Linked DNA regions of Homo sapiens. The protein of the gene in region 2 purifies or fractionates together with the protein of the main gene of each other region. This does not show direct contact. Each region holds a gene or a part of one and is shown on either strand. Other genes may lie near its edges.

Region 1 (11,569 bases), on a different chromosome or scaffold from region 2:
GAGGCCAGCCTGACCAACATGGTGAAACCCCATCTCTACTAAAAATACAAATATTAGCTGGGCGTGGTGGTGGGCGCCCAGCTACTCGAGAGGCTGAGGCAGGAGAATCACTTGAACCCAGGAGGGAGAGGTTGCAGTGAACCAAGATCTTGCCATCGCACGCCAGCCTGGGCAACAAGAGCGAAACTCTGTCTCAAAAAAAAAAAAAAAGAAAAGAAAAGAAAAGAAATTGCCAACAATTGTTACTTCCACGGAGTGAAAATGGTGGCTCAGAGATGAGGGACAGCAGAATGATTTTATACCGTACATATTCCCCTTTGGACCTTTTGGATTTTGAACTACATGAAAGTGCTACCTTTTTCAAAAAGTACATTTAAATGTAGATTTAAAAATATAGGAGTTGGAACAGAGGCAGTGGTTGGGTGGGGTGAAACATTTCAGAGATAGGATGTAGCAGAAGAAGGGAAAAGCAAAAAATTATTACACTTTCTGTTGGACTCTAGAATTTCATGTGGTGTTTCAGTCTGAAGTAAATACTCCTCAAGATGATCAAATGTCTTGTACTCTTAACTCTTTGCTCTGCCGGGTATGGTGTGTCACACCTGTAATCCCAGCACTCTGGGAGGCTGAGATGGGAGGACTGCTTCAGCCCAGGAGTTAGAACTAGCCTGAGAAACATAGTGAGACCCTGTCTCAATTGTAGATAAGCCAGTAAATAAATAAATAAATCTTTGCCCATCAAACAGCCCTCAATTTCTCACAAACCTTGACACTAAGAAAGGAGTGTCCCAATAGTGGACACAAATATTTAGGTCATCAGAAAGGTATAGTCAGCCCTCCATTAGAAATGGGTTCTGCATCTGTGGATTCAAACAACTGCAGATTGAAAATATTCGAAAAAATGGCTGGGCCCCGTGGCACACGCCTGTAGTCCCAGCACTTTGGGAGGCTAAGTGGGAGGACAGCTTGAGCCCAGGAGTCTGAGGCTACAGTGAGCTATAATCGCACCACTGCACTCCAGCCTGGGTGGCAGAGCAAGACCCCGTCTCTAAAAAAAATAAAAAGGAAAGAAAATATTCAGTAAAAAATGAATGGTTGCATCTGTACAGAACATGTGCAGACTTTTTTCCTTCTCATTATTCCCTAAATTATACAGAGTAACAACTACTGGCATAGCATTAACATTGTATTAGATATTATAAGTAATCTAGAGATGATTTAAAGTATAAGGGAGGATGTGTATAAGTTATATGCAAGCACTACAACATTTATATCAGGGACTTGAGCATCTGTGGATTTTAGTACCCCAGAAGGTTCCTGGAACCAATCCCCCCTGGATACCAAAGGACAACTGTAGATCCTTTCATGGTAAATAAGATAGTGTCCAGTTTAAAACACAGTCTCTGACGGGGTGGCTTAGCAATTATTCCTGACACACTGATAAAATCTGGAACTGCTGAGCTAGAAGTTAAAACTTGGACCAGTATGACCCCAAGTACAAAGGAAGTATGACCCATACCCAAAAATGGAACCCAGCCTCAATCAGCCAGAGTTACCATTGACATATCTGGAATTTTCAGTAGTTTTGTCCTCTGTTCTATCACTACCTAAGTTAGTCCAAAAGTTCACCCTAAAAGTCACATTAACCCCAGGGCTTTGGGTAATGAAGAAATCACATCTTGAGCCTAGAGAGAATCATAGCATTTCTTAAATAGGCAGCCCCAAAGCAGTTTCCTTTCCCACACTGAAATTACTGGAATGGTTTAGTGGTCCCAGAAACTGGTAAGACTCGTGCCCAGGACAGTTAAAAACCCCAGGATCAACAAAACTTGTACGAAGTAAAAAGAACACAAGCTTGTTCTCTATTCTGATGTTTATTTGTTGTGTTTTGTTTTAGAGACAGGGTCTTGCTCTCTGACCCAGGCTGCAGCGCAGTGGCACTCAATCATGGCCCACTGCAGCTTCGACCTCCTGGGCTCAGTTGCCCAGGTGATCCTCCTGCCTCAGCCTCCTGAGTAGCTGGGACCACAGATGCACAACACCACACCCAGCTAATTTTTTAACTATTTGTAGAGACAAGGTCACACTATGTTGCCCAGGCTGGTCTTGAACTCCTGGACTCAAGTGATCCTCCCTCCTTGGCCTCTCAAAGTGCTGGGATTACAGGTTTGAGCCACCACACCCAGCCTCTATTCCGAAGTTTAAATCACATACCTTGAAAGTCAACTAATAAATGTTCCTAAATAAGTATAAGAATTTAAAAATAAAAGTCATTGCCAAAGAGTTATATTTTGGAACATTGCAAAAATACCTGCTCATAGGTCGATAGTCTATGCCACATCATCTAACTGGATATTAATAGATGAGCAATCACTCACCATATCCTGTACAGTTAACTTCCAATTTTTTAGGAAAGGACACAGGAATACAGGTAAATAAACTGAAACCCAATTCTCATTTTAGCCAACACTTTTTAAATTCCTCCTCCAATGAAATGTATTTTTTATCAGCGCTAACAGGTAACAATTTATTGATCCAAACGTCTTTTCCTTCAACAATCTGATAGTTGTCCAAATGATCATTATGACAACCAAAATTAGAAAACAGCAGGGGAAAAAGAGTGAGAGGGCTTGGAGGGGTGGAATGGGATAGGTAATTCATAAATTGGATAAACAGAGGCCTCAACAAATGCCTATTTGTCATAATCTAAAGATGACTGACCCATTGTCATCTCATTTTTAATACAATGACCAAGTCCCTGAAGCCACCTGGTAAAATGTAAAACGAACTTCTGAAAAGAAATTGAGGATCCAGGATTCTACCATCAACAGTAGTTAATAAAGTTTACAAGCCAGCAGTTACTAGTTCTCATTAAGAATTAACTGATATTTCATAACCTGATCCCCAGTAAGCTTATTAATAAAAAGCAACGGAAATTTCGGGCTGGGCATGGTGGCTCACACCTGTAATCCCAGCACTTTGGAAGGCTGAGGCGGGTGGATCACCTGAGGTCAGGAGTTCAAGACCAGCCTGGCCAACATGGTGAAACCCTGTCTCTACTAAAAATACAAAAATCAGCTGGGCATGGTGGCGGGCGCCTGTAATCCCAGGTACTCGGGAGGCTGAGGCAGGAGAATCACTTGAACCCGGGAGGCAGAGGTTGCAGTGAGCCGAGATTGCACCATTGCACTCCAGCCTGGGCGACAAAGCGAAACTGTCTCAAAAAATAAAAATAAAAAATAAAATAAATAAAAAGCAATGGAAATTTGGAGGAAGAAGTAGTGAATCAGCCTCTCTCTTCCATGTGCTGTATTTTATTGGAATATGAGTAAGTATAAGGGTAATATGAGAAATGGGGGGGGGGGTTCTAGTCACCAAAATGGCATCTGACTCTCCAAATGCAGCAATGCTCACTCCAGTGGGTTGCTTCACTGTGACTCAAGATCTGTCAAATGAGGACATAAGGGAATTTGAATAAAGCCAAGATACACTCCTAAAATAAACCAAATCTTCCAATAGACCTAACAGAAGATGTAACAAGAATCAAGAAGCTAACCTACTCAACATAAATTGATTCTAAAATACTTTTTAAAATGAATTATTGCTAATGCAAAAATTCAGGAAAGAAGTCTAGGAATTTGTTTTCCTAATGGCACATTCCATTTATCTGTTGGTAGAGGTCACTAAAATACATTACTAGGTGTCTATGTATCCCTCCCCTGTTCTCCTTTTATAACCTTATTCTTCAAAAATAAAAGGTAATTAAGTGAAAGCATCAATTAAATATGTCCTTCCTTTCTCAAAATAGATAAATACGAATATAACTGAATCTTTGTTTTATAGTATATGCCCACTACGCTGTACGGCAAACAACCATGGCAAATCCACTGCATTATGAACAAAAGTAAATTGTCGCCCCCAAAATATAACTATCCATTTCGACCCAACCAAAGGGAAAATAATTTTCCCAATCCTCCAATTATATGCCAAAAGAATTAGAAAATACAGGAAAAAAAGATTCATAGAAGCTTGTATAAATGTCAAGTGCCAACATTTCACTAATAACCAAGATTTCCTATTGTACTGACTTTTAATTGTATCAAATCATGAATCTTCTAGGGCACAGAAAACAAAGACTAAATGGTTCTGCCAATTTACAATGATCATATTTCACCTTTAGAAGTGTAATCGCCATGGAAGCAATGAATTCATCGAATTCATCTTTCTCTCTCCACTGATTAAACGGATCCTGCACTACAGGCATAATCGGCTAGTTTCTGCCACCACTCATACATAGGCCTCCAACGCACTCTACAAGCCAGGGCTACACTGCCTAGAAATCCGCACTGTGTCACTGCATAAGGCAGTTTCCCACTGCACACATCCAGAAGAATAAAGTCACCTAAGCACTCTTGTCAGATCTTAGCAAGGCTGCAAAATGACAGGAGTTGCTAACCAAATAGCAGGAAGCAAAAATCACCACCTTTAAAAATCATTTAAGCAGTTTTCCTTTCCGCCATCTCACTTCCCTCCTCCTCCTCCTCGTCATTCTCTCTCTCTCTCTCTCACACACACACACACACACACACACACACGCACGCACGCACGCACGCAATGCAGTTCATCCCCAGCTTTGCAAGTGACATGCTGGGAGCTCTCTCTGGACAGCCGGCCCAGAACTCATTCAGAGCCCTCAAATACAGACATTCTCACCTGAACACGCCAGGCAACTTCCACCCGCACCATCACCTCCACCCTCCCCGACACACACAGACTCGCCCTCGCAAGCTCTACCCATACCAATCCCCCAGCTGCAGAAAGCCCAGTAGGCTCACTGCAAGCGCAGCACGCGTTACCACTTATAAGCCGAGTTGGGCGGCCTAAGCTTCAGAAACCGCCTCTTCACGCAGCCCACCCCCACCACCCCGGCGCGGCTGGACCCCTGGCCCGCCAGGTGGGATGCGCTACCTTTAGACTGGCAATCTGCACAAAACTTGTTATCCTCCTCCAGCAGCAGGTTGGCCAGGACAGCCTGGTACCGATCCACGTCCTTCACCGACTTGCCTGTCATGGCCAGGGTGCCGGCGGGGGCAGAGGGCGACGCGCCCTCCTCGCCCCCAGAGACCCCTGCCTCAGTCCGGGGTTGAGGACTCCCGGTCCCCCGCCCAGGGGCACCTCCTGAGCGGGGAGAGCCCTCTCCTCCGGCCCCGCCGGACGCCCCTTCCCGGGTCGGGGGCGTCCGTCCCCCACTCCGCAGCCCCTCGGCGCGGCGCCCCTTGGCGGGCTTAGGGACAGGCCCGCCTCCAAGAGAGGCTGCGGGGCCAGAGACCCTCAGCCCAGGCAAAGGCGGACCACGAGCCTCCTGGGTGCCGGACGCAGATGACCCTCTGGCCGGCCTGTCTGCTGGCCTTGCGTCCCGCGCCTCGGTTTCCCTGGCAGCTGCCGTCAGCTCCGCTACCACCTCCACCGCCTACTTCCGGCAGCTCTTCCTCCCCACCTCCACCCTGCCCAGCTCGCGCATGCGCCCCGCCCCCACCGCGCCGCACTGGGCTCTTCCTTCAGCTCCGCCTCTCGGGAACCAATCCGTGGAGAAGCGGGGGGCGGGCCTTGGGTGGGGGCGGAGGGAAGGGGTGGGCACGCCCCCTGCGTGTCCTTGGAAGAGAATGAATGGAGCCTGGTAGAAAGGGAGTGGAGGGAATGGAAGAAAGTGAAGGAAGACAACAACTAACATTTACTGAGCTCTTACTATGCGCTAGGCACTGTGTTAAGCGCTTTGCATGAACTATCCCAACATAATCCTCACAACGACCCTATGATCATCCTTATGTAACCTGAGGGTTGTTGATACCCCAAAGTCCTCCAGCTTGTTTTTTCCAACAGCCAAATATAAGAGTCCAAGCCCCTAACCCAGGATATAGGAACGTCACCCCCTCCCCACATTTTCAGAGGACTCTGGTCACCTCTCACTTGGAATACCTGCTCCCACTAATACTCATTAGCTCTCCTCTGTGACTCCTGCCTTTTTGGATATTGTTTGGCCTGGTGCCCAGACAGTTTGTTTCTTCTTCCATTTCTTAAATTCTCACAAAACAGCGAGTTTTTTGTGGCAGACTTTTACTGAACGTTATTTGGGAAGGGTGGGGGACAGTGATTAAAGCATAGCACACAACAGGCAACTCCTTAAAAATGATTATTAAACATCATCATCCAAAGCCACCGTTGCTACAGATAATTTCTCATTGGCTGTCCTTTTCCTTAGGGATCCACCTGCCATCTGGCTTGTGTTTTCATTCACTCATTCATTCATTCATTCACTGAGCACGATGTTACTGAGAAATTTCTAAGTATCAGGCACTGTACTAGGGGAGAGGGAAACAGCATGATCCGATTTGTGGTTTTAAAAGGTCACTCTGGCTGCCATGGAAATAATTAATCAGGGAAGATAGTAAGCAGATGCTAAGAGTTATCTAAACTCTGGTGAAACCCTCTCCTCCATTTCTTTACTTTCTCCCAAGACCAGGATCCCCTCAAAGCTTTCATCTCATCAGAGGAAAACTAAACATTTCTATTACTTTATTAATCACAACAATTAAATTTTCTGGCTAAGCCTCTTCCCTTCTAGCCATGCCTAGGGGACTTGACTTTTAAAAACACACAAGTTCATTGGGGTGTTTTTCCTCAGAAAACCCATCCAAGTAGGTATTACCATAACCATTTTTCAGTTGAAATAGACAGTCAAGATTAACTAGTTACTGGGTGTGGTGGCACATACCTGTAGTCCTAGCTACTCAGGATGCCAGAGCCAGAGCATCACTTGAGCCCAGGAGTTGGAATCCAGCCTGGGCAACACAGTAAGAACCACCCCTCCAACCCCCAATGTACCCCGTTACCCTGTCTCAAACAACAACAACAACAACAAAACCCAGTTAATTGCGGTGAGTGGTGATTGTACCTTAGTTCAAGCCCTCCCCATCTTCATCTCCTCACTCTGCAAATAGCCTTCCTGCCTTAGTCTAAATCTGGTTAAATTAATCCTTCACCGTGCTCTCTAGAGGGAGCTTTTAAATGCCAATTCTGATGGACTCACACTTCCTGCTTAAAAAATCCTTTAGTGGCTCTCCATTGCCTATGGCAGTGTTTCTCAAATTGTTCCCACCTAGTGAGAGATCTCATGGCTTTGTGGTTAAGCACACAGACTCTGGGGCAAGAATGCTTAAGTTTAAATCTTCAGCTTTTACCACCTATTATCTGTGTGACTTTGAGCAGGTTACTTAGCCTCTTGGTGCCTCAGTTATTTCATCTATAGAATGGGAATGATGATAACATTAATAGTACCTATTTCACAAGATTATTATGAGGCTTAGCTGAGATAATGCCTGTAATATAATTAGAACAGCCCTTGGTAGATAGTGAATGATAGACAATTAGCGCTCTTCACTAAATATTTCTGGCGTTTTGCCTTCTGAGCACATGGTAGGATTTTATTTCCTGGCCTTCAAGTGATTGGGAAAGACCAATGAGTTTGAGCAGAAAGGATGGATTACTTTGTCTCTGAAGCATTTATTTGTTGCTTTGAGCCTCTTGTGCTTCTCTTTCCCTCTGGCATGGCAACTATTGATGCTGAAGATGTTGGTTGCTCTATTAGCCTGGATTTCTGTGTAGCTGATAAACAAGAGCTCTCTGCCAGCCCATAGAGGATAACTTAGCATAAGCAAGAAATAAGCATTGTGTTGCCATTGAGTTTTGTTTGTTTACCACTGTATAAGCTAGCCTATCCTAGCAGATACATCAAGTATTAGCTCTTTTTATTATCATTACTAATAGCAGAGTAAAGTGAGTGCATAGCCCAGGGTCTGAGGATATAAACAAAGCAAACTGCTCCTCCCAAGTACACATTTTTTTTTTTGAAGTCTTGAATTTTGCTTTGACTAGTCTTGCAAAAATGTTCACTCTGTTCCATCATGCACATGTTATCTTATCATAAAACTGTTTCCACATTAGTTATAAAATTTTTTTTTTTGAGACCGAGTCTCGCTCTGTCGCCAGGCTGGAGTGCAGTGGTGCGATCTCGGCTCACTGCAACCTCCGCCTCCCAGGTTCAAGCAATTCTCCTGCCTCAGCCTCCCAAGTAGCTAGGACTACAGGCACGTGCCACCACTCCTGGCTAATTTTTTGTATTTTAATAGAGGCAGGGTTTCACCCTGTTAGCCAGGATGGTCTCAATCTCCTGACCTCGTGACCCGCCCACCTCAGCCTCCCAAAGTACTAGGATTACTGGCATGAGCCACCGCGCCTGGCCAGTTATAGAATTTTCTTTTCTTTTTTTTTTTTTTTTATTATACTTTAAGTTTTAGGGTACATGTGCACATTGTGCAGGTTAGTTACATATGTATACATGTGCCATGCTGGTGCGCTGCACCCACTAACTCGTCATCTAGCATTAGGTATATCTCCCAATGCTATCCCTCCCCCCTCCCCCTACCCCACCACAGTCCCCAGAGTGTGATATTCCCCTTCCTGTGTCCATGTGATCTCATTGTTCAATTCCCACCTATGAGTGAGAATATGCGGTGTTTGGTTTTTTGTTCTTGTGATAGTTTACTAAGAATGATGATTTCCAATTTCATCCATGTCCCTACAAAGGACATGAACTCATCATTTTTTATGGCTGCATAGTATTCCATGGTGTATATGTGCCACATTTTCTTAATCCAGTCTATCATTGTTGGACATTTGGGTTGGTTCCAAGTCTTTGCTATTGTGAATAATGCCGCAATAAACATACGTGTGCATGTGTCTTTATAGCAGCATGATTTATAGTCATTTGGGTATATACCCAGTAATGGGATGGCTGGGTCAAATGGTATTTCTAGTTCTAGATCCCTGAGGAATCGCCACACTGACTTCCACAATGGTTGAACTAGTTTACAGTCCCACCAACAATGTAAAAGTGTTCCTATTTCTCCACATCCTCTCCAGCACCTGTTGTTTCCTGACTTTTTAATGATTGCCATTCTAACTGGTGTGAGATGGTATCTCATTGTGGTTTTGATTTGCATTTCTCTGATGGCCAGTGATGATGAGCATTTTTTCATGTGTTTTTTGGCTGCATAAATGTCTTCTTTTGAGAAGTGTCTGTTCATGTCCTTTGCCCACTTTTTGATGGGGTTGTTTGTTTTTTTCTTGTAAATTTGGTTGAGTTCATTGTAGATTCTGGATATTAGCCCTTTGTCAGATGAGTAGGTTGCGAAAATTTTCTCCCATTTTGTAGGTTGCCTGTTCACTCTGATGGTAGTTTCTTTTGCTGTGCAGAAGCTCTTTAGTTTAATTAGATCCCATTTGTCAATTTTGTCTTTTGTTGCCATTGCTTTTGGTGTTTTGGACATGAAGTCCTTGCCCATGCCTATGTTCTGAATGGTAATGCCTAGGTTTTCTTCTAGGGTTTTTATGGTTTTAGGTCTAACGTTTAAATCTTTAATCCATCTTGAATTGATTTTTGTATAAGGTGTAAGGAAGGGATCCAGTTTCAGCTTTCTACATATGGCTAGCCAGTTTTCCCAGCACCATTTATTAAATAGGGAATCCTTTCCCCATTTCTTGTTTTTCTCAGGTTTGTCAAAGATCAGACAGTTGTAGGTATGCGGCGTTATTTCTGAGGGCTCTGTTCTGTTCCATTGATCTATATCTCTGTTTTGGTACCAGTACCATGCTGTTTTGGTTATTGTAGCCTTGTAGTAAAGTTTGAAGTCAGGTAGTGTGATGCCTCCAGCTTTGTTCTTTTGGCTTAGGATTGACTTGGCGATGTGGGCTCTTTTTTGGTTCCATATGAACTTTAAAGTAGTTTTTTCCAATTCTGTGAAGAAAGTCATTGGTAGCTTGATGGGGATGGCATTGAATCTGTAAATTACCTTGGGCAGTATGGCCATTTTCACAATATTGATTCTTCCTACCCATGAGCATGGAATGTTCTTCCATTTGTTTGTATCCTCTTTTATTTCCTTGAGCAGTGGTTTGTAGTTCTCCTTGAAGAGGTCCTTCACATCCCTTGTAAGTTGGATTCCTAGGTATTTTATTCTCTTTGAAGCAATTGTGAATGGGAGTTCACTCATGATTTGGCTCTCTGTTTGTCTGTTGTTGGTGTATAAGAATGCTTGTGATTTTTGTACATTGATTTTGTATCCTGAGACTTTGCTGAAGTTGCTTATCAGCTTAAGGAGATTTTGGGCTGAGACAATGGGGTTTTCTAGATATACAATCATGTCATCTGCAAACAGGGACAATTTGACTTCCTCTTTTCCTAATTGAATACCCTTTATTTCCTTCTCCTGCCTAATTGCCCTGGCCAGAACTTCCAACACTATGTTGAATAGGAGTGGTGAGAGAGGGCATCCCTGTCTTGTGCCAGTTTTCAAAGGGAATGCTTCCAGTTTTTGCCCATTCAGTATGATATTGGCTATGGGTTTGTCATAGATAGCTCTTATTATTTTGAAATACGTCCCATCAATACCTAATTTATTGAGAGTTTTTAGCATGAAGGGTTGTTGAATTTTGTCAAAGGCTTTTTCTGCATCTATTGAGATAATCATGTGGTTTTTGTCTTTGGTTCTGTTTATATGCTGGATTACATTTATTGATTTGCGTATATTGAACCAGCCTTGCATCCCAGGGATGAAGCCCACTTGATCATGGTGGATAAGCTTTTTGATGTGCTGCTGGATTCGGTTTGCCAGTATTTTATTGAGGATTTTTGCATCAATGTTCATCAAGGATATTGGTCTAAAATTCTCTTTTTTTGTTGTGTCTCTGCCCGGCTTTGGTATCAGAATGATGCTGGCCTCATAAAATGAGTTAGGGAGGATTCCCTCTTTTTCTATTGATTGGAATAGTTTCAGAAGGAATGGTACCAGTTCCTCCTTGTACCTCTGGTAGAATTCGGCTGTGAATCCATCTAGTCCTGGACTCTTTTTGGTTGGTAAGCTATTGATTATTGCCACAATTTCAGCTCCTGTTATTGGTCTATTAAGAGATTCAACTTCTTCCTGGTTTAGTCTTGGGAGAGTGTATGTGTCGAGGAATTTATCCATTTCTTCTAGATTTTCTAGTTTATTTGCGTAGAGGTGTTTGTAGTATTCTCTGATGGTAGTTTGTATTTCTGTGGGATCGGTGGTGCTATCCCCTTTATCATTTTTTATTGTGTCTATTTGATTCTTCTCTCTTTTTTTCTTTATTAGTCTTGCTAGCGGTCTATCAATTTTGTTGATCCTTTCAAAAAACCAGCTCCTGGATTCACTGATTTTTTGAAGGGTTTTTTGTGTCTCTATTTTCTTCAGTTCTGCTCTGATTTTAGTTATTTCTTGCCTTCTGCTAGCTTTTGAATGTGTTTGCTCTTGCTTTCTAGTTCTTTTAATTGTGATGTTAGGGTGTCAATTTTGGATCTTTCCTGCTTTCTCTTGTGGGCATTTAGTGCTAAAAATTTCCCTCTACACACTGCTTTGAATGCATCCCAGAGATTCTGGTATGTTGTGTCTTTGTTCTCGTTGGTTTCAAAGAACATCTTTATTTCTGCCTT
Region 2 (10,563 bases):
TCTATTACAACCATCCATCCTTTCATTCCACCCATTCAACCATCCATCCATCTATCCATCCATTCAACCATCCATCCATCCATCCCTCCTTCCATTCCATCCATCCATCCATTCCAACCATCCATCCATCCATCCATTCCAACCATCCATCCATCCATTCATTCCAACCATCCATCCATCCATTCCATCCATCCATCCATCTATTCCAAACATCCATCCATTCCATCCATCCATCATCCATCCATCCATCTATTCCAAACATCCATCCATCCATCCGTCCGTCCATCCATCCATCCATCCATCCATCCATCCATCCATCCATCCATTCAACCATCCATTCAACCATCCATCCATCCATCCATCCATCCATCCATCCATCCATCCAACCATCCATTCAACCATCCATCCATCCATCCATCCATTCCATCCATCCATCCATCCATCCATCCATCCATCCATCCATCTATTCCAAACATCCATCCATCCGTCCATCCATCCATCCATCCATCCATCCAACCATCCATTCAACCATCCATTCAACCATCCATCCATCCATCCATCCATCCATCCATCCATCCATCCTTTCCATCTATCCATCTATCCATCCATCCATCCATCCATCCATCCACCCATCCATCCATCCATCTATTCCAACCATCCATCCATCCATCCATCCATCCATCCATCCACCCATCCATCCATCCATCTATTCCAACCATCCATCCATCCATCCATCCAACCATCCATTCAACAATCCATCCATCCATTCCATCCATCCATCCATTCCATCCATCCATCCATTCCAACCATCCATCCATCCATTCCATCTGTCCATCCATCCGTCCGTCCATCCACCCATCCATCCATCCATTCATCCATCCATCCATTTATTCCAACTATCCATTCATCCATCCATCCATCCATCCATCCAACCGTCCGTCCGTCTGTCCGTCCATCCATCCATCCATCCATCCATCCATCCATCCATCCATCCGTCCATCCATCTATTCCAACCATCCATCCATCTATCCATCCATTCAACCATCCATTCAATTCATCTATACAATCCAATCCATCTATCCACCAACTCACCCATCCACTCATCCAATCCACACATCTGTCAACCCATTTATTTATCTGTCTCTATCTATCTACCTACCTACCTACCTACCTACCTACCTACCTACCTATCTATCTATTTCTACTTACCTAACAATTCATCCATTCAACAAATATTTATTTAGCACCTACTATGTGCCAGGTGCTCGGCAAGGGCCACGCCTGATTTGTTTCAGGGCAGTGCTGACATTTCCTAACCTCCCACACATGCCGGCCCTCTGTGGGGACTGTGGACTCCCCTCTGATGAGTGGATCCTGGTCCCTGTCTTCCAGCAGACAGACACAAGCATTGATTCTGTCAGCCCATGAAGCAGACTGCGGCTGTGCGCTGTGTGTGCGGGCATGTGTTGTATCTTTCCACTCGCTCCCCTAGCCTAGCTCAGTGCTGCCATGCCTGGCACACACAGAGGAGGGGCTCAGAAGATGGGCCTGGCAGCATAGATGCCAAGGCAGGCAGGGACAGGAGAGGAGAATAGGCCAAGAGATGAGGAGGAGGGAGGAAAAGAGAAGAATAAGTAGGAGAAGGAGCACTTGAGAGGAGCAGGGGAGGCGCCCTGGGGACCCAAGCCCTGGTTGAAGTGGGTGTCTTGGGTTTGTGGGTGGTACACTCTGCCACGCTCCTGGCTTTCCTCCAGCCCATGCACCCCTGGCCTCTAGCACTCCCCAGCCCCCAGGGAAAGGAGAGTCTCCCATTCCCCCGGGTGGAGAGTGGGCAGGATCTCCTCTGAGGAGGGGAGTGGGGCACAGCACCCACCAGGAGTACAAAAAGCAGAGGAAGAAGGGGACCGAGACCACCAGCTGCAGCAGTGTCCAGTCCCGCACACCGTAGGCCACTGCAGCTGTCAGGCCATGGCCGAAGCTGAAGCCCAGAGAGTTCAAGGTCATCACCAAGGGTCGGGCCCGTGCCGCCGTCCACTCCATCACTGCAAGGAGACCGAGTGGTTCAGCCCTGGAGCCTGCATGGAGCCCCCCTGCATGGCGCCAGGTCAGAGACCTACGGAGAGTGCCCGTGTTCATCATGACGCCTGCCACGGCAAAGGCCAACAGGAAGCGGAACAGGCAGTACACGGGGAAGGCAGGGGCGAAGGCAGCTGCCGTACCCATCACAGCCATCTGAAGGTAGCTCCAGGTTAGCACCAGCCTGCGCCCAAACCTGCGGCACAAACCAGGAAGAGGCAGGGTCTGTGGCTTGCCACGGCACAGGCCACGGGGCTCTGGAACACCTAGAGCCCACCCTATGCTTGCCCGCTGAGCTGAGGCGGACACTGAAGCGGCACCTGGGTGAAACCTACATTCTCCACCTACGGAACCCTCCGGAGCACAAGGAGAGTCCCGAGGCCAGAGCCAAAGGGAATGGGCTCCAGTCACCAGGAGCACTCAGGTTGCTGCTGAAGGAAGGCGCATGGCCAAGCCAGTTTTAGCAGTGAATGTTTGCTGGGGAGCAGAAATCCTCTACAACCCCCAGAGTAAAGTTGGTGAACTCGAGGTTCAGAGAAGGTTCCAGACCTCCCTACCTGGCACGGCTGCAGGGTGGCTGGTCCGAGACCCACACCCAGCAAGTAGGGCGCTTTCTAGACTTGGTTTTGTGAGGCTGGTTTGGGGCCAGTCGGCCAGGGTCCTAGGAGAGCAGGGGTTGTGAGGGGAACTGGGACCTGCCTGGACTGGGGGTACTCACCTGTCTGAGGCAGGGCCGCACGCAGCAGCTCCCACCAGAATCCCAGCCAGGTAGATGGACTGGGCCATGGGCTTCAGAGCATGAGAGTCACACACGAGGTTCCACTGATGGGAGAGGAGGAGGCTGAGCTCAGGAGGTTGGGAGAGCCCCAGCAGAGAGGCAGAGGAACCGCATGGGAGGGCCCCCAGGGAGCTGGGTGCGGTGGGTGGTCTGGTGACCTCTAGGGTTTTAGAGCAAGACCCTGTGGAACAGTGAGGGCACCCACAGGCATAGTTTGGCCTTTTGAGGAGTATATCCTGCCACCCTCTGCCTGAACTCTTCCATGGCTCCCTATTGCCCAATGGGTCTCTAGCCACATCTGCCCCTCTCTCCTGTCTCTCCACTTGGAAGCAGCCACCCAAGCTGACACCCTCACCCCTCTCCCAGAGGTTGCTTCCCTCCTGTTCTTTATAAAGAGGTTCTTCCCACTTGTTGGGATGAGCTGCCCCTCTCTGCTTGCCTGGCTTTGCCTGGCGCCCCATCTGGGAGGCAGCCTGGGGTAATCCCTTACTCTGTGTGCTTTGGTCTCGGGGAATCCAGTGAATTGTCACTGAGTCCCCCTGCTGCTGAGTTGCCTGGAGTCACGGCTGACAGGTCAGCAGGGCCAGGACAGGGTGAGGCCGGTGAGTGTCCAGGTGCCAGCATTTAGAGGTGCCCGCCCAGGTGCCCCCCGCACCTCCAAGAGCCTGGGCTGGCCCCATTTGTAGACTGATCCCTGCCGCCCACTTCCCTGTGTGTGGCTGACGAGGGGCTGAGAGGCTCGAGAGTGAGTGGGGCCTGGGGAGGTGGGTCCCTCCCAGGACTGGACCTTTGAGTCTGACCCACCGTGATCCATGACTGACCTCCAAGGTGGTGGGACTCGAGTGGCTCTGGGGGAGGCCCTACCTTGGCCACGATTGTGGAGGTGAAGATGCTGCGGTCATAGACCCAGCCATCCACACACGGCTCCGTGTCGGCCTCGCTCCAGCTGGTGGCCGTGGCATTGGGGTCCAAGAGCTGCCACTGTGGCTGGCGGAAGCGGCGGCACTGGTGGGGCCTCTGGTTGGGGCCCGGCGGGATGGAAATAGCCAGGAGGGCCTCAGGACTCAAGCTCCCTAGGATGCTGGCCTGAGCCGTGCTGTTGTCCAGGAGGGGTGCCCAGCAGCGGTGGCTGGGCACGGCGGCCGAGAAGTTCTCCAGCATGCTCTGGGTACACAGCCACATGATGGAGACCATCAGAGCCATCGTCTGGAGAACCTGGAACCTGCCCAGGCCACCCACGAGGTCCAGGAGTTCAGAAAATGCCATGGAACCTACTCAAGGGGCCCAGAAGAGGGGCCCACTTCACAAAGGCTGGCCCAGGGCAAAGAGGCCAGGGCAACGGGCCTGTTTCCCCCACGGTGGTGCCCACAGTGGCTTCTCCAGCCCAGCGGCTAGGCTTCACAGACTCGGGGCCGGAGGCTCAGGCTCTCTGGTCATCTGCCTGCTGGTGTCACTTGGGGTGGCTCCAACTGGGCCCTGAGGCCGCGTGAGGTGATTCCGAGACCTCCAGCATCTCCCCAGAGAGGCAGCTGCTCCAGACCTCCCGGGAAAGCTGAATTTGGAAAGTAGGGAATGTGGAGACTGAAGACTTTAATTTTAGACTGGAATTAAAGTGTGACCGGTGACACTTATGGAATCGAGTTTAGCAATCATTTCCTTGGTCAAAGTTTAACCCGCGTTGAGGCAGGCACAGACGCGAGGGAGGTGCAGCCTCCTCTGCTTGGGGGCCAGGGCCGGCCTGCTCTGTGCCAGGTCTTGGGGAGGCCTAAGTTTTTCTCCTGGCGGCTGTGGGATGCCAGGGCTGCCTGCTCCCTTCGGTGCCCCTGTGTGCCCACCTCCCAGAGTGGCTGAGCCAAGAGAAGGTGGGCCAGGGGATCCCCCTAATTTGGGGCTGGGGCAGCTGTGCAAGTCTCTGTGTGGGCTTGGGTCACTGGCAGCTGCCCAGCCCCTGCGCCTCCCAGGCTGTGTGGCCTGGCCCCACCCGTGGCTCCTGCCTCCACTCACCTGCTGTGGTTGGCGTCCTGTGCCCGCTTTGCTGTTACCCTGTCCTGAGTCCTCGGTGGAGCTTCCCAGCATCAACAGACACCCCACAGACTCCCCAGGTTCGGTGTGCCCAATGCCACCCTGAGATCTCTGTCCCCTCCCCAAATCTATGCCTCCTGCAGAGCCCCACCTCAGCTATGGCCTCTCATGTCACAGTGTCTGGCCTGGAACCCAGCGTCTTGGTTCACGCCTCCTGCTCCCTGCCTCCCAAATCCACCAGGGGCCAAGCCTGGCTAGTTTTGCCTCCTAAGGATTTCTCTCTCCCACCTCCCCCACTCCACAGCTGTCCCTGCCCTTGTCTTTCTGCCTCAACTCCTGCCCCTGGACCCACCACGCACTGCGAGCCCTTGGGTCAAATCCTGCTTAAAAGCCAAGGGGCTCCCAGTCAACAACAGCTAGTGGTGACTTACTAGGGCAGGTGAGTGGACAGCAGTGTGTGCTGATGCAGGGTGTGGGGTTCAGGAAAGGCTGGACCGAGGCCAAGAGAACCCCCTTGGTCTCGATAGCTAATTCTGTAGGCGAAAGGGCCAGAGAACACAAAGCAGTTAAAAAGTGTGTGTGCATGGCCGGGCGTGGTGGCTCATGCCTGTAATCCCAGCACTTTGGGAGGCCGAGGTGGGGGGATCACTTGAGGTCAAGAGTTCAAGACCAGCTTGGCCAACATGGCAAAAACCCATCTCTACTAAAAATACAAAAGTTAGCTGAGCATGGTCGTGGTGCACAGCTGTAATTCCAGCTACTTGGGAGGCTGAGGCAGGAGAATCTCTTGAACCCAGGAGGCAGAGGTTGCAGCAAGCTGAGATTGCACCACTGCCCTCCAGCCTGGTTGACAGAGAAAGACTCTTATCTCAAAAAAAAAAAAAAAAAGAAAAGAAAAAAAAGAAGTGTATGTATATGTGGGTGTGTGCACATGTCTGTGTATGTGTGCACATGTGTTTGCACAAGTGCATGTGTGTACATGTGTGCATGCGTATATGTGCAGTGCAGCAGTGATGGCAACCCAGGTGTTTGCTCTTATGAGCTTTGGGCATAAAACTCTCCATTTGAGGCATAAATGCCCCTCCCATCTGCTTCTTTTTGCTTCACCGACTCTTCCCGCTGCCCCTCCACATGGCTTACCAAGCCAACTTCTTTGCCTCCCTGGGCTCTGCACCTTGAGTCATCCACTGCTTCCACCACATGCCCTGTACATGCTTTCTCAGTTCCCACCCTTGCTTATGTTGGACCTCCAGCCTGGAATGCTGTCTCCAGGCTCACCCTTAGGCCACATACTGTGTGGAATGGGCACAGTCCAAATACTCCTCCTCCAGCGGGCTCTCTTCACTTATTCCTGCCTACAACTAGGGCTCAGAGTTGTCAGTGGAATCTCATCTTTACACTGTCCTGCATTCTTCTCAAACTCCTGACCTCAGGTGATCTGCCTGCCTTGGCCTCCCAAAGTGGTGTGAGTTGCGGCACCCAGCCATGACCTGCATTCTTCTATTATGGTCCAGTTGGTCTTATTTCCAGTGAGCTCCTGGTAGTCTGGAACCCTTCTTTAGAGGCTCTTTGGAACTGATTTGGACAACAAATAAAGGTTCCATGGAGACTTGCTGAAGTGCATGGATGATTTTTTTAAAAATTTCATTTATTTTCTAATTATGAAATAATTTACACACTTCCTCAAAAATTCAGAACATATTGAAATGAAAATAAAGATCCCTCATATACTCATCAACCAGTGAGTTACACTACTGTTTACAGTTTGGTGTAAATATGTGCAGACTTTGTTTTAGTAACTGATATGTTTAGCTTCATCAGCTTGAGCTGCCAAATAAGCTTTACATTTCCTTTTGTAAAATCCAAAAGAAATACCTCTGCCTTTTAATTAGCGATTTTAACCTGTTCACATTTATTGTAATTATTGACATGTTTGGACTTACTGTATGTTTTCTTGTTTACCACATTTTCCCTTTAAATCTTGGTTTCCTTGTTCCTAATTTCTACTGAATCCATTAAGTTTTCTTGTTATATTCTTCTACTGTCTTGGTCTGTCAGTTGTACGTTTTATTTCTGTTACCCTTATATTTGAACACACAAACCAGGGGTTATTTGATACCATCTTCTCTCTTCAAACCTACCACCTTCTCTTCTATCCTCTCTCTCAATAGATGACCTTTTTTCTTATTTCACTAAAACAATAGAAGCCATCAGAAGCCAACAGTCTAATTCTCTCACCAGCTCACCTGCCTTGGTGCCCCCACATTCTGCCTTCCTTCCACCCAGTTTGGTTTCTCTCTCATCCATGCCAACCCCTCACTGTGTGCCTAGAGCCCACCCCCCTTTGCCTGCTCACATCTCTCTTTGGCATTTGTCTTTCCCTCGCTACTGGATAATTTCCACCAATGTACAAATATGCCATTTTTTTCTGTAGCCTTCCAAAAACTCCCCCTCCATTTGAGCCCCTCTTTCTTCTTAAGCGACTGCCCCACCTTTGCTTGTATTTACAACAAAATTCTATGAAAGTATTATTGACACTCATTTCCAGTTTCTGTCTTCCCATTTTTTTGTTTGTTTTTGGATTCATTCCCATCAAGGTTTTGCCCCTATCACTCTGCTGTCACCAATGACCTCCATGCTGCTAGATTCAATGACATTTTCAGTCCTCATCTTACTTGAGCCATCTGTCTCTGATCTCCATCTGAGAATACTTTCTTCCCTGGGCCTCCAGGACTCACTAGTTCTCAATCTTCTTGGTTGGGTTTTCCTCTTCTCCACACACTGTTAACATTGGAGGCCACTGAGCTCACTCCTTGGTCTTCTCTATATTCTCTATCATCTGGTCCATTCACATCTTTAGCCTGTACCTCTTCTTGGAATGCTAGATTTTGATCCAACTGCCTAATCTTAGGTGCTTAATAAACATCTCACACTTAGTGTGGCCAAAGCTGAGCTCTCCCAAAAAAATGCTTCTCATGCAGCTTTCTCCACTTTTTTTTTTTTAAGTTGAGTCAGAGTCTTGCTCTGTTGCCCAGGCTGGAGTGCAGTGGCGCCATCTTGGCCCATTGCAGTCTCCACTGCCCAGGTTCAAGCAATTCTCATGCCTCAGCCTCCTAAGTAGCTGGGTCTATAGGCATGTGCCACCATGCCCAGCTAATTTTTGTATTTTTAATATCGATGGGGTTTCACCATGTTGGCCAGGCTGGTCTCGAACTCCTGGCCTCAACTGATCTGCCCACCTCGGCCTCCCAAAGTACTGGGATTATAGGCATGAGCCACTGCACCCAGCCCCAAATCACCAGCATTTTAATTTCAGAATGTGTAATTTCCATTTCAGAATCCGTGTTTGGTTCTTCCTATAACTGCTTCTTCTTGTTTCCTAGTTTCCACTTCTTGTTTCATAGGTGGAATAATTTCCTTGATCTCTTAGTGGATATTACGAGTGTTTCTCTTGGGCCAGGCGTGGTGGCTCACGGCCGGAATCCCAGCACTTTGGGAGGCCGAGGCGAGTGGATCACTTGAGGTCAGGAGTTTGAGACCAGCCTGGCCAACATGGGGAAACCCTGCCTCTAGTAAAAATACAAAAATTAGCCAGAGGTGGTGGCACACACCTGTAATCCCAGCTACCAGGGTTGCTGAGGCAGGAGAATTGCTTGAATCCATGAGGCGGAGGTTGCAGTGGAGCCAAGATCACGCCACTGCACTCCAGCCTGGGTGACAGAGCAAGATTCTGTCTCAAAAAAAAAAAAAAAAAAAAAAGAAGAGTGTCTTTCTTCTTAATATCAATATTCATTTGTTGAGCTGAGTGTTGATAATGCACCAGCCACTGCTCTAGGCACAGGGATGCAGCGGTGAACAAACAAGATAATTCCCTGTTCTCATTGATATGTAGAAAGACATGCCAATGAGAGAGGAGAAACACATCAAGAAATAAATGAATATAGTGACAAGTAGTAATCATGCTGTGGAGAGAACAAGATAGCATAAGGGGCAGAGAGTAAGGATCATGTTGCCACTTTGGGTGGGGCAGTCAGGGAAGACTTCTCTGTGGAGGTGGCATTGAAAGAGACCCAAGTAGATGAGGGGACAAGACACACAGTTGACTGGGGAAAGAATATTGCAGGCAGAGGGAAGAGTATTATGCAAAGACCCTGGGGTGGGCATGTGATTTTATGCTCAAGAAGTAGGAAGGAGGCCAGTATGGTTGGGGAGAAGTGAGTGGGAAAAGTAGAGCAGTTTTGGGGCCAAAACATACACTTCCTTATAGGGTTTTGAGGAGAGAAGTGGCATGATCTGACTAATGTTTTTACAAATCTCCCTGGCTGCTGTGTGGAGAACAGACTGAAAATGGGACAAATATAGAAGAAGGGGTTCCCCCAGGAGGCTGTTGGGGTGGATCATGTGAGCAATGAGGGTCAGGGCTAGGGGATTAGGGCAGGTGGAGAGAAATGCTTGGGTTTGGGGCATATTGCTTTTCTTTGACTAAATACAGGGCCGAGGGTGAAGAAAAAGGATAAACTGATGATCAGGTGGGTGGTGGGTGGATGGTGGGCCATTTACAGAGAAGCAGAACACTCGGGGAGAAGCAAGTTTGATGGGAAAATAAATCTTTTTTTGTGTGATGATATTGACATGTCTATTAGCCATCCAGGTGGTGGCATCATGGAGCGACTTGGGAATAATTAGGGGATAAAAGGCATTTTAAGTCACAGGACTGGATAAGCTCACGTAGGGTGCAAGCTTTCATAGCAAAGAGATGACGTTTGTGATGGAGCCTTTGGTCTCTGATGTTGAGAGGTCAGTAAGAGGATGACCCAGCAAAAGAGCTGTGAAGGCAAAACCAGTGAGGCCTGGAAACCAGGACAGCAGGATGCCCCGGAAGCCAGAGTGAAAAGTATCTGACAGAGTCAATCAGCAATGTCACATCCTTGGCCGGGCGCGGTGGCTCACGCCTGTAATCCCAGCACTTTGGGAGGCTGAGGCAGGTGAATCACCTGAGGTCAGAAGTTCGAGACCAGCCTGGCCAACATGGTGAAACCCTGTCTCTACTAAAAATACAAAAAATTAGCCAGGCATGGTGGCACATGCCTGTAATCCCAGCTACTCAGGAGGCTGAGGCAGGAGAATTTCTTGGACCTGGGAGGCAGACGTTGTGGTGAGCCGAGATCACGTCATTGCACTCCAGCCTGGGCAACAAGAGTGAAACTCCATCTCAAAAACAAGGAAACAAAAAAGTCTCATCCTGCTGAGAGGTGGGGTGGGATAAGGTCTAGAATTAGCCCCTGGATTTGGCAGCATGGACTTCTCTGAGGGCCCTGGCTTGAGGGTTTACCGTGGAGGGGTGAGGTGAAGTGCACAGAGGCACAGGACTGTGAGAGTGCTGGAGGCAGGGAAGTGAAGTCGGTGAAGACAGGCAGCTCACCTACGGAGTTTCACTCTAAGGAGAAGCAGGAAAATGGGGATGTGGTTCGCATTAATTAGAGTAACGCTGGCTGCTGTGGCAAGCCAACCTCGAAATGTATAGCAGCTCAAACACAGTAGAAGTTTATTTATTGATTGTGTAAAGTCCCAAATGGCTGTTGCTGACTGTGGGCAGCTCTCCTCCAAGAGGTGTCTGGGAACGCAGGCTCTCCCCATCTCGCAGCTCTGTCCTTGGCATCCACGCTGGCTGTGCTCGTGTGCATCCA

What was found.
Region 1: the proteins of SLC22A12 (region 2) and SMAP2 purify together in Homo sapiens (affinity purification with mass spectrometry; 2 studies listed by BioGRID and IntAct, with this or other methods). This does not show direct contact.

The regions. Positions count from the first base shown.
Region 1 is NC_000001.11:40,367,623-40,379,191, reverse strand, and holds the start of SMAP2 (stromal membrane-associated protein 2), read right to left. Parts: upstream 5,466-11,569; 5' UTR 5,072-5,465; coding exon 4,969-5,071; intron 4,560-4,968; exon of another isoform or gene 4,497-4,559; coding exon of another isoform or gene 4,484-4,496; intron 3,446-4,483; exon of another isoform or gene 3,376-3,445; intron 1-3,375.
Region 2 is NC_000011.10:64,585,114-64,595,676, reverse strand, and holds the start of SLC22A12 (solute carrier family 22 member 12), read right to left. Parts: upstream 4,458-10,563; 5' UTR 4,121-4,457; coding exon 3,719-4,120; intron 2,899-3,718; coding exon 2,795-2,898; intron 2,273-2,794; coding exon 2,118-2,272; coding exon of another isoform or gene 2,043-2,117; coding exon 1,874-2,042; intron 1-1,873. UniProt on the Homo sapiens protein: Electroneutral antiporter that translocates urate across the apical membrane of proximal tubular cells in exchange for monovalent organic or inorganic anions. Involved in renal reabsorption of urate and helps maintaining blood levels of uric acid.